Homo sapiens: one gene and its partners. The protein of the gene in region 2 purifies or fractionates together with the protein of the main gene of each other region. This does not show direct contact. Each region holds a gene or a part of one and is shown on either strand. Other genes may lie near its edges. The genes, in order: ZSWIM7, RAB33B and RGP1.

Region 1 (3,475 bases), on a different chromosome or scaffold from region 2:
TTGGATGGTTGCTGTGTCTGTGTGGAAAGAAGTAGACATGGGAGACTTTCCATTTTGTTCTGTACTAAGAAAAATTCTTCTGCCTTGGGATCCTGTTGATCTGTGACCTTACCCCCAACCCTGTGCTCTCTGAAACATGTGCTGTGTCCACTCAGGGTTAAATGGATTAAGGGCGGTGCAAGATGTGCTTTGATAAACAGATGCTTGAAGGCAGCATGCTCGTTAAGAGTCATCACCACTCCCTAATCTCAAGTACCCAGGGACACAAACACTGCGGAAGGCCGCAGGGTCCTCTGCCTAGGAAAACCAGAGACCTTTGTTCACTTGTTTATCTGCTGACCTTCCCTCCACTATTGTCCTATGACCCTGCCAAATCCCCCTCTGTGAGAAACACCCAAGAATGATCAATAAAAATAAATAAATAAATAAATAAAACAAAAATTAAAATTAAAATTAAAAAAAAAAAAAAGAGAGAGTAGCCTAGAGACTCTGATGAGCATGTGGTTACAATACCTGTCTTCCTAGGGAGCTGTCAGATTTCAGTGAGATAATCTATGAGAAGCACTTCACAGCCTAGTGCCTCAAGGAATGTTAACCATTGCTGTGACAGCTTTCTGAAGGCAAGGAAGAAATATAACTTAGGACTAACGTGAGGAGTGCAGGTAGTCTGGGTTTTCACCATGGGTTACATACCTTGTGCCTGATGGATCTAAGCCATTTCCCAAAGCAGCAGGCAAAGTAAGTCTGTGTCCACTCTGATTTCTAAAGAGAATACTCCTGTCTCATCATCTTTATCTGCAGTTTTTATTTATTTATTTTTTGAGACAGTCTGGCTCTGTCACCCAGGCTGTAGTGCAGTGGCGTGATCTCGGCTCACTGCAACCTCCACCTCCTGGGTTCAAGCGATTCTCATGGCTCAGCCTCCTGAGTAGCTGGAATTACAGGCATGTACCGCCACACCCAGCTAATTTTTGTATTTTTAGTGGAGACAGGGTTTTGCCATATCAGCCAGACTGGTCTCGAACTCCTGATCTCAAGTGATCCATCCGCCTCAGCCTCCCAAAGTGCTGGGATGACAGGTGTGAGCCACCATGCCCGGCCCATCTGCACTTTTTAGACAATCAGTTAGAGACCCCGTAATCTGTATGCTCTAGTCTTCTCCTGCCAAATAAGATGGTAATGAGAAATCTTGGTTAGACTGGCCAGCCCTGGCCCTGCCTGTTTCTAATAGGTGTGTGTGTTTTATATTCCAGTGCAAGCATCTCTTGGCAGTTTACCTGAGTCAGGTTATGAGGACCTGTCAGCAGCTAAGTGTCTCTGACAAGCAGTTGACTGACATATTATTGATGGAGAAGAAACAAGAAGCATAAAAGGTACAGATTGAGCATCATTCTTTCAAAATAGAATCCTGTCAAGAAATGCATTGAAAGCGTCATGATTCACATGGAAAAGAGGTGAAATGGATCTTCAGACACTTCATGTTACTGTCCCTTTTCCCTCCAGGACTGCAGGAGGTGCTGTGGGTTGGAGCCGTGGGCTGTGGAGGGTTTGTGTATGATGAGAAGCCCTGTACAGTCTTGTCAAGAAATACCCTGAGCCAGTCTCTGAGACGCTTCGGTAAAAAATGTCCCTGGATGGAATCAAGATTTTAAATTCAAATAAAGCCTAATATCATGTTGTGTCCACATTATTTAGTCTTTTTTTTTTTCTTTTGAGATGGAGTCTCACTTTGTCGCCCAGGCTGGGGTGCAGTGGCGTGATCTCAGCTCACTGCAAGCTCCGCCTCCCGGGTTCACGCCATTCTCCTGCCTCAGCCTCCCGAGTAGCTGGGACTACAGGTACCCGCCACCATGCCCGGCTAAATTTTTGTATTTTTTTTTTAGTAGAGATGGGGTTTCACCGTGTTAGCCAGGATGGTCTCCATCTCCTGACCTAGTGGTCTGCCCGCCTCGACCTCCCAAAGTGCTGGAATTACATGCATGAGCCACTGCGCCTGACCCTATTTAGTCTTAAGTAACTAACTGAATTACTAGTAATTTTTAAAAGGTTGGAATGGTGGGCCAAACAGTAAGATGAAGTTTCGACGAGTAGGTCAGTTCTTTTCCTTGGGTCCAGGAAACTATTGAGCAGCAACAGAAGATCAGAGCAGAGATGTGGCTAAACAGTAGCAGGTATGAAAAGACTTAGAGGTTCTGGTTTCTGTAAGCTTCAAATATCTGTGATGCTTGTGCCAAAACAGCTTAAGTAGACTGTATTGTTTGAGAGTTAGTATCGAGAACAAGGGAAGAACTGGTTTCACTCTGCACTTCTGATCTTTACAACAGGGCAATTGAAGGAACAGACTAAAAATCGTGTCCTGGAAGGAAACTACAGGTACTACCAGGGATTTTCAGTCTGAAGAAGAAAAGACAAAATAGATGACAGAAGGAGTATTAGAAGGGAGAGCGATGAGACTCAGTTGGACACCGAGAGAGCAAAGAAGCAATAATACGTGAAGATGAAAATGAAATCAATTTCAGCATAAGAAGACAAGAACTTATGGTAAAGCTGCCCACAGCCAGAAGAGGATCCTAGAAGGACAGGAATTCCCTGTCTGCAGCATTTCATAAGCATGTAATATTGTTGCAGGGATACTGCAGAAGGAGTTGAAGCAGTGGACAGACAGATGATATAGGTGATTTTACAGCCTAAGAAAGCCCTGTGCTTGTGCCCCCAAAACATGAGGTGCTAGTGAATGAATGCTGGGGGAAAGCCCAGGGCCTAGGTGTTGCAATGTTCTGTGGTTGGCAGATGCTTTTTGTTTTGTTAAAAAGTGCAACAGATAAAATTTATCAATACTTTTCTGCTACTCAGGAAACTTGGACTCAGCATAACTTACTTTTTTTCCAGCAGCCTTCAGGGTAAAGTTTAGAAGGTAGATGCAACAAGCCAATGCAGCACCCTAAGCTTGTCTTTTTAAGTTTTATTTTTATTTAACCTAATATACACAGAGTTAAATAATTTTACTTCATAAAATTTTCACACTTTGAGTTCCAAGAACTTAACCAAACTTGAAATTTGGAGAGAAGCAAAATTCCCTATCTATCTATCTAGCTCTAGAAGGCAGAATTTGGTAGAGGAGGGATCCCATTTCACCAGTTTCTTCCCCACGGGTAGTTTTCTGTATATGGAAAAGAATGGAGCTTAAAATTATGTGATGAAAATTTGACTTATGAGACTATCAATCAATCATTTCCCTAAATTAATACAGCAGTTTCTTGATTGAATACTTTATTTATATATATATATATATATATATATATATATATATATATATATTTTTTTTTTTTTTTTTTTTTTTTTTTTTTTTCTGAGACAGAGTCTCACTCTGTCACCCAGGCTGGAGTACAGTGATGCCATCTGGGCTCACTGCAGCCTCCGCCTCCCAAGTTCACATGATTCTCCTGCCTCAGTCTCCTGAGTAGCTGGCACATGC
Region 2 (3,652 bases):
TCATTAAAAGTAAATTAATGTTTATAAGTCAAAAAATATTTTATATGAAGTCACCTTATACCCTACCTTAAAACAGAATCAAATTGATACTTTATTTCTTAAAATGTGGTATTGGTGGTTGGAGAGATACCAAACTGGTTCTCTTGATTTGATTTGATTTGCATTGAAATTCAGTGAATGAGAATATGCGCAGTTCAGGTATCCTAAGAATGCTGAAGAATCTTGTGATCCCTTAGCTCAGAAACTTTTGGGCAGTTTCTGGTCTGAAAAAGACTTTGAATTGCTGGGGTTTGGTCCTGGGGCTGGCATGGTGTAAGTAATATACATTTTCACAGACCCAAGCTTTCCTACTATCTGAAGGATCCCAGGAACCAGGTCAGAATTCCTGTTGTTTTTCTAGCCTGATTTCAGAAGCCTATGATTCTCTTCTGTCACTTCTTACGAAGACGAAGAAGGCAGCATTGGTGTGTATATTCAGAGGTGGTGAGAAGAGAATTACTTACTTCTCTGGAATCAGTGGTCAAGATCTCTTGCTTTGGAGACTGTGTGAGGACTCTAAGCAAATTAGTTTAAGCAGAAAGGGAATTTATTTTTTCATATAACTAAAAAGCCTAGAAGTAAATTTCTCTGTCTGCCAGTTCCAACTGCAGCTCTACATGCCCATTCCTAAACTATGGTAGTGACAGGGAGTGTGGGGGTGCGAACCTCTGATTGGTCAGACGTAGGTCACATGCCCTCCCTGGGAGCCAGTGGTTCATGTGAATGGAAAGCAGGGGAGGGCCGATTCCCAAGGAAAATAGGGTGCTATTAATAGAAGGGAGAATGAGGGTTAGGCTGGAGAAAACAACATGCATTCTCTACAGAATCAGGTAGTCCACGTTTAAATTCTGGCCTTAAGACTTACTCGTTTTGTGGCCTTGGGTGAATTACTTAAACCTCAGTTTCCTCATCTGAAGATTGGGTAATTATTACATAGGGTTGCATATATTAAATAAGGGCATGTAAAGGACTTAGCAGAGTTCCTGGAGTATACATGGAATGTGCTAAGCCCCAAATCAATATTAATAGTTTAAGAGTAAATGCTCATTCCTTCAGGAGAGAGATGGTAGTGGGGAAAAAAAACAGGCAGTGAAAGAATAGGGAAAGAGGATGGATAACTAAGATTACTGTTCCAAATTGTGTGTATTTTTTCCTCTAAGGTGATAACTAATGCTTTCTCTCACTGCTTGCTCTCTTCCTTATCACCATTATTATTCTGTAATTAAATCCTTTATTTAAAAAAAATTTTGACCAGGCATGGTGGCTCACGCCTGTCATCGCTTGAACCTGGGAGGCAGAGGTTGCAATGAGCTGACTTCGTGCCACTGCACTCCAGCCTGGGTGACAGAGCAAGCCTCCATCTCAAAAAAAAAAAAATTTCATATATACGTATAATTCCTTTATATAAAACTTCATGAATCTCTAGTTTAAATTCCAATATCAAGTTTTAACAAAAATGGCAACCTAGCTACTGCTAAATACTAATAGTAGATTCTTGTTGTTGATGACAGCTCTTTTTTTTTTTTTTTTTTTTGACGGAGTCTCGCTCTGTCGCCCAGGTTGGAGTGCAGTGGCACAATCTGGGCTCACTGCAAGCTCCGCCTCCCGGGTTCACGCCATTCTCCTGCCTCAGCCTGCCGAGTAGCTGGGACTACAGGTGCCTGCCACCACGCCCGGCTAACTTTTTGTATTTTTAGTAGAGATGGGGTTTCACTGTGTTAGCCAGGATGGTCTCGATCTCCTGACCTCATGATCCGCCTGCCTCGGCCTCCCAAAGTGCTGGGATTACAGGCGTGAGCCACCGCGCCCGGCCATGACAGCTCTTTTGGTAGTTTTATTATCCAAAATGAGAAATGATCTGACTTTAAATTGATTTAATACTCTTTTTGCTTGACCTAAAATGTTAAAGGTTTTAATCCAAATTTTCCATCCCTGATTAACTATTAAATTTCCTTTTCCCCTATTCTTTCAAAGAACACATTTTTATTATTTCATGTAAAAGACCATCTATATAAGAACTACATAAGAGCTTCTGTTAACAATTTAAGTTGTAAAACAACATCATAACTGGTATTAGTGACATCTCAAGAGAACTCTTTGCTTTTTGTATGTGGAGTAGAAATGTGTGTGTCTGGTGTACAGAATCAAATGGCAAATCTTTGAAATAAATTTTAGCTTTCTGGAGTCTCTCTCAACCTCTACTGATTCTGAGTGCTGCCATTTCATGTATTGGTCTGTGTTCACTTAAACCCTGTTAAAATTTTAAAATAAATAAATTTTAGCTTCCTAAGAAGACAAGTAACAAATTTTTGTGATTATTTGAAAGGAATACTGCCTTTAAAATGAAGAATTTGGGCCAGGTGCCATGGCTCATGCATGTAATCTCAGCACTTTGGGAGGCCGATCAGTTGAGCCGAGGAATTCGAGACCAGCCTGGGTAACATGGAGAAATCCCATCTCTACAAAAAACACAAAAATTAACTGGGTGTGGTGACACACTCCTGTAGTCGCAGCTACTCAGGAGGCTGAAGTGGGAGGATTACTTGAGCATGGGAGGTGGAGGTTGCAGTGAGCCAAGATTGTGCCACTGTACCCCAACCTGGCAAGAGTGAGACCCTGTCATAAAAGATAATAATAATTTCTTTTTGAGATGGAGTCTCTGTCGCCCAGGTTGGAGTGCAATGGTGCGATGTCAGCTAACCGCAACCTCTGCCTCCCAGGTTCAAGCCTATTAAAGGCGTGTGCCACCACACCTGGCTAATTTTTCTGTATTTTTAGTAGAGACGGGGTTTCACCATGTTGGCCAGGCTGGTCTTGAACTCCTGACCTCAAGTGATCCACCCACCTCGGCCTCCCAAAGTGCTGTGATGACAGGTGTGAGCCACCACCCCTGGCCAAGTATATATTATGTTATCTTTATAATGTTTAAAATGGCAATAAGATTGCTGTGAGCACATATTAGCCATTTTTCCTAAGATATTTAAGTATTAAATTGGGAAAAATTTCTCTGAAAATATTTCCTAATTTAACATTTACCAGATGAAAGCGTCTCACTTCCTTGGGTCCAAAAGTATCAGTTTCTCTTCTTTTTTAAACATCATGAACCATTCCACTCATAGCTAAGCCTCAAGAGTTTTCTAGGCTTTGCTTTTCGCCTAGTGTCTGTCTGTCTGTCTCCTTCAAAGTTTTCTCTAGCCTTTTATGGTCAACAGTTTTTAATCAGTTGTCCTGTCGTGTATTGGCTGGGTCTCTCACTGCTCCTTTCCTGTCTCCTTGCCTTCTCATCTCAGTGTGCAGGCCTGGAAGGCAGCAGGCAGCAGTAGCCCTAAGCCTTCCCATCATTTAGTTATTCCATGAGAGAAATTTTGAAGCTTCTTTTTAGATATTCCTTTGTAAATGCCTCATTATTAGTTACGTTTATGGCTCTACAGTAAAGTGTAGAGTTATTTCAGGCTGGGCATGATGGCTTTTGCCTATAATCCCAAAGCTTTGGAAGGCCAAGGTGGGAGGATCACTTGACCCCAGGAGTTTGGGACCAGCCTGGGCAACATAGTGTGACCACCCCCCCACTGTCTCTACAAAAAGTAAAAACTTAGCTGGGTCTGGTGACACG
Region 3 (3,552 bases), on a different chromosome or scaffold from region 2:
ATGAAATTCACTATACAGTGTGTGGCATAACACCAAGCTTAAATGGTCACTCAGTGGACTTCACAATAATGGCCACTTTATGCTTCTGGATGCAAAACGTTGGGAGAGTTTGAAGTGGATATGAATTTGAGAATGCGTTTTCTTGTAGGAAAAGTAATGGAAACATAAGCATCTTTTTCTAATCACAGGAAAGGTTAAGGCTTTGGTGAAAGCAAGCATAACTGAGTTTAAAAACAGTCTAGAATAAGAAAAGGGTAATAGAAGAGGAAGGAAGGCAGAAGTGGACCATGCAGAATAAACAATCAAGCCTAGCTTTTTTAAAAACCTGAGGTCTTACTAAAGAGAAAGGAGGAAAAACGGAAGATTTCAACATAAGAGTGTTAAAGGTGGAAAAGAGCCAGAAAGGACTGTGGGCTTAAAAAAAAAAAATCAGTGAAGCAGTAGTGGTGTATGTTGGCAAAGAGAAGTGTAGAGTTGAGAGGAGGGAGAGAATTTATAGTAGAGGAAGTCGGTGTGAAGTTTTCCTCTCAAGATGCCCAGCAGAGCAAAGAAGGAATGAAGGCAAAGGCCACTGGGAATAGAGTAGGGCTGGGGCTAAAACAGCACGGGAGAGTGCAACAGGGCCCAAAGTAAGACATTTTCTTTTCTTTTCTTTTTTTTTTCATTAATTGACCCAGATTTGCTTGTTTGGGACCAAAGGCAATGCAGAGTTTAGGGATCTTTATAATTTATAAAGTAATCACCTTTGGCCCAACATAACACAGATCATAAGGATCATGGCAGAATTCGTCTCTGAGACAAGTACAAAATACCATTTTAGAGTTGATTTTAGAAGAGAAGTCAGACTAATAAATTGCTGTGTTGTAGAAATACTATGGTGAATTAAACAGCTTTAACTTTTTCTATCAGCCACAGGATAAATACAGAAACTGTATAATTACATACACATCCACAGAAGATAGTAGCCTCATATGCTAAAATTGTGAGTTGTTTGTCTGTATACTGTAGTCCAAAGCTCCCATTCCAAGAAATGTTTTATTTGGTTCAAAATATAAAGGGCAGGTTAGAGGGCTACACAGAAAAAAGGCTAAAAATAAAGACAGTAAAATGAGGGAGAGGAAAAGTGGAAGTGCAGCACTACTGATCCAGAAAAACTGAGGCATCAGCCACAAAGAATTCAATCAAGTCAGTGAGGGGCAAATGGCACAAAAGCCAAACAAGAAAAAGGCTGAATACCATATTACCAATCTGAGAGCCTCACTTTTGGTTTTAAGTCAAATATTGAATTAGATTGTGCAACTTTTCTATTTTTATTTTTTTATTTTTAAAAATCCACCAAAATTACTTAAATCATTTGACAGAGTCATACAATTTTAAATGACTATAAAAATGTGCAGATCAGTGCCAAATTTTTTGGCAAAGGCTGAATGGCAGACAGTAATCCAAGACGCAGACAACCTTGCTTTTAAGCCATCCGTTACACAGAGACCAGCAGGCTCCCTTCTACCTGTGAGACCAAATAATCCCAAAATGTAACCAAATAATCATAACTCCCCCTACTCCTAAAACCTACCCTTCACCCTTCACTGTCTACGTCAGCCTCTGGACAGACCTGATGCCTGGGGTTTGGCCATTTCCGCCTTCCCACCCTGTGTTGGTCTCCCTCCTCCCTCCTCAGGTCCCTCAGTTCTCCCAGGCCTAACTTGGCGTGCTTCCTTCCTCTCTCACCCCAATCAATCCGGCTCTCCTTCCCTTTCTGGGTTACGCCACCTGCCCGACTCCCGGTTTCCCCCTCGGGGGCCCCTCCTTGCCCTGGGGTCTGCTCTCGGCCCGCCAAGTTCTCCCAGGGGATCCCTCCCCACCTGCCTCCATACAGTCAGACTGTGTTCAGTGTCCGTTTCGCGCCCGTAGCGACACCACGACAGAAGCCCACTAAGTGACCCTCTGCTCCCAGAAACCCTCCTGGCTCCTCCAGACCCTCCGGGGCTCTGGCCCGCAGCTCCCCTCTCCCTCCGGCGGCGGGGGTCGGCTGTGACTCACCAGAGGGCCAGCGGCCGGGGTTGGGGTGGGGGGGCCGGAATGCTCTCACTTCCTCTCCGCGCACCTGCCCCGAGGCTGGAGCGCCGCCCGGCCGGGCCTCCGGCGGATGTTTTCCTTGTTCCCAAGCGTGTAGTGCGCGCCAGCCGCCCCCTCCGGGACCTGCGCGCCAGCCACCGCGCCCCCAGGACCCAGCGGGCCTGGTCCTCACCACTCACCCCCTCCCCAGCAGGCACGCATGCGGGCTCGACCCACACCTCTGCACCGCCCCCCAACTTCTGGGAGAGGACTCCTGGCTCAGCCCAGCCTCTAGCTTTCCAGAAGCCCCTATATGCCTACCTCATCTTCGTTATAGGCGATGAACCTTCACTTCTGTCCCCGTTTCCGCACACGCACCAATCCCCACTGGCGATCCCTTCCCCTTCGGCATCACCCCCACCTTCATGCGCCCCAGCTCCCCACTCACATCCGCCCCCTATTGGGCTGGCTCTAGCTTGCAAGAGCAGAAGGTGGCCCAGGGCCCAGCCTTCCAGGATGTCCCCTGGACCCCCTCTCTGGGAAAGGCGGCAGAGCTACTGGCCACTGACAAGACCTTTGGGCCCTCGTGCTAGACAGGCCTTCGAATCCACCTGCTCCAGCCCAGAGAGCAGGCCCAGGCCGTGCCTCCCACACCGCAGCCGACCTCAGAGCACCCTGCCTCAACTGTGAGTTTTTTCTTGGCAATCCTCTGAAACGGAAAGGGTATCAGTCCTGACTAGGGCGAACGTGAGGTCCATTCTGCATCTCCATCCACCTTAGCTGTCTCCTTGGAAAAGGACAGCAAGGGAGTTTGAGGTGCACTGACACAGTCATTTCTGAACAGTGAAGAGATGACAGGTAGGGTGGTCCCCCTTGAAAAGTCAGCCAGAAGTAGCTGTATCTGATGCACTAGGTGGCAGGGAGTGAGTCTTGGAGTAAATGGGACTGAAAACGTAGAAAAACCAAATAAATGCCAAAGAGACTATCCCTATGGAGAATACCTAGAACATGGGTCTTTGAAGTGTGGAAAAATGAAAGAAATCCAATTTGACCAGGGCCTTTAGTGCCAAAGAGATGGCTAGCAGGAGAGTGGTGAGAAAGGAGAACTGGAGAGTTCACATGAGCGGAAATAGGAAGAAATGGATCCAAATCCAAGTGAGAAAAAGCAGGAGACTTAAAGTTAGCCTGGCAGGATGATGAGAAAAGGACATCTTGTCCTAGGGTAGAGGCGAGGGTGCAGATCTGGGGGAAGAAGGCTTATTGGGAACAGTTTCTCAAACTAGACATTCAGAAGTCAATACAAGGGCCAAAACCAAAATGTTCCTGGAGGTACCTGTTTTTGAAAGAGGTGGGAAAGGTGACATGGATTAGGGGTCTCCATCCCCCAGGCCACAGGCCAGTACCAGTCTGTGGCCTGTTAGGAAGCGGGAGCACAAAGCAGGAGGTGGGCGGCAGGCGAGTGAGCATTACCGCCTGAGCTCCTCCTCCTGGCAGATC

The links.
Region 1: the proteins of RAB33B (region 2) and ZSWIM7 purify together in Homo sapiens (affinity purification with mass spectrometry; one large-scale study listed by BioGRID and IntAct). This does not show direct contact.
Region 3: the proteins of RAB33B (region 2) and RGP1 purify together in Homo sapiens (co-immunoprecipitation; one study listed by IntAct). This does not show direct contact.

What each region holds. Positions count from the first base shown.
Region 1 is NC_000017.11:15,975,942-15,979,416, reverse strand, and holds the end of ZSWIM7 (zinc finger SWIM domain-containing protein 7), read left to right. Parts: intron 1-1,253; coding exon 1,254-1,370; 3' UTR 1,371-2,857; downstream 2,858-3,475. UniProt on the Homo sapiens protein: Involved in early stages of the homologous recombination repair (HRR) pathway of double-stranded DNA breaks arising during DNA replication or induced by DNA-damaging agents. Required for meiotic progression, hence for fertility.
Region 2 is NC_000004.12:139,460,501-139,464,152, forward strand, and holds part of RAB33B (ras-related protein Rab-33B), read left to right. Parts: intron 1-3,652. UniProt on the Homo sapiens protein: The small GTPases Rab are key regulators of intracellular membrane trafficking, from the formation of transport vesicles to their fusion with membranes.
Region 3 is NC_000009.12:35,755,686-35,759,237, reverse strand, and holds the end of RGP1 (RAB6A-GEF complex partner protein 2), read right to left. Parts: 3' UTR 653-3,552; downstream 1-652. UniProt on the Homo sapiens protein: The RIC1-RGP1 complex acts as a guanine nucleotide exchange factor (GEF), which activates RAB6A by exchanging bound GDP for free GTP and may thereby required for efficient fusion of endosome-derived vesicles with the Golgi compartment.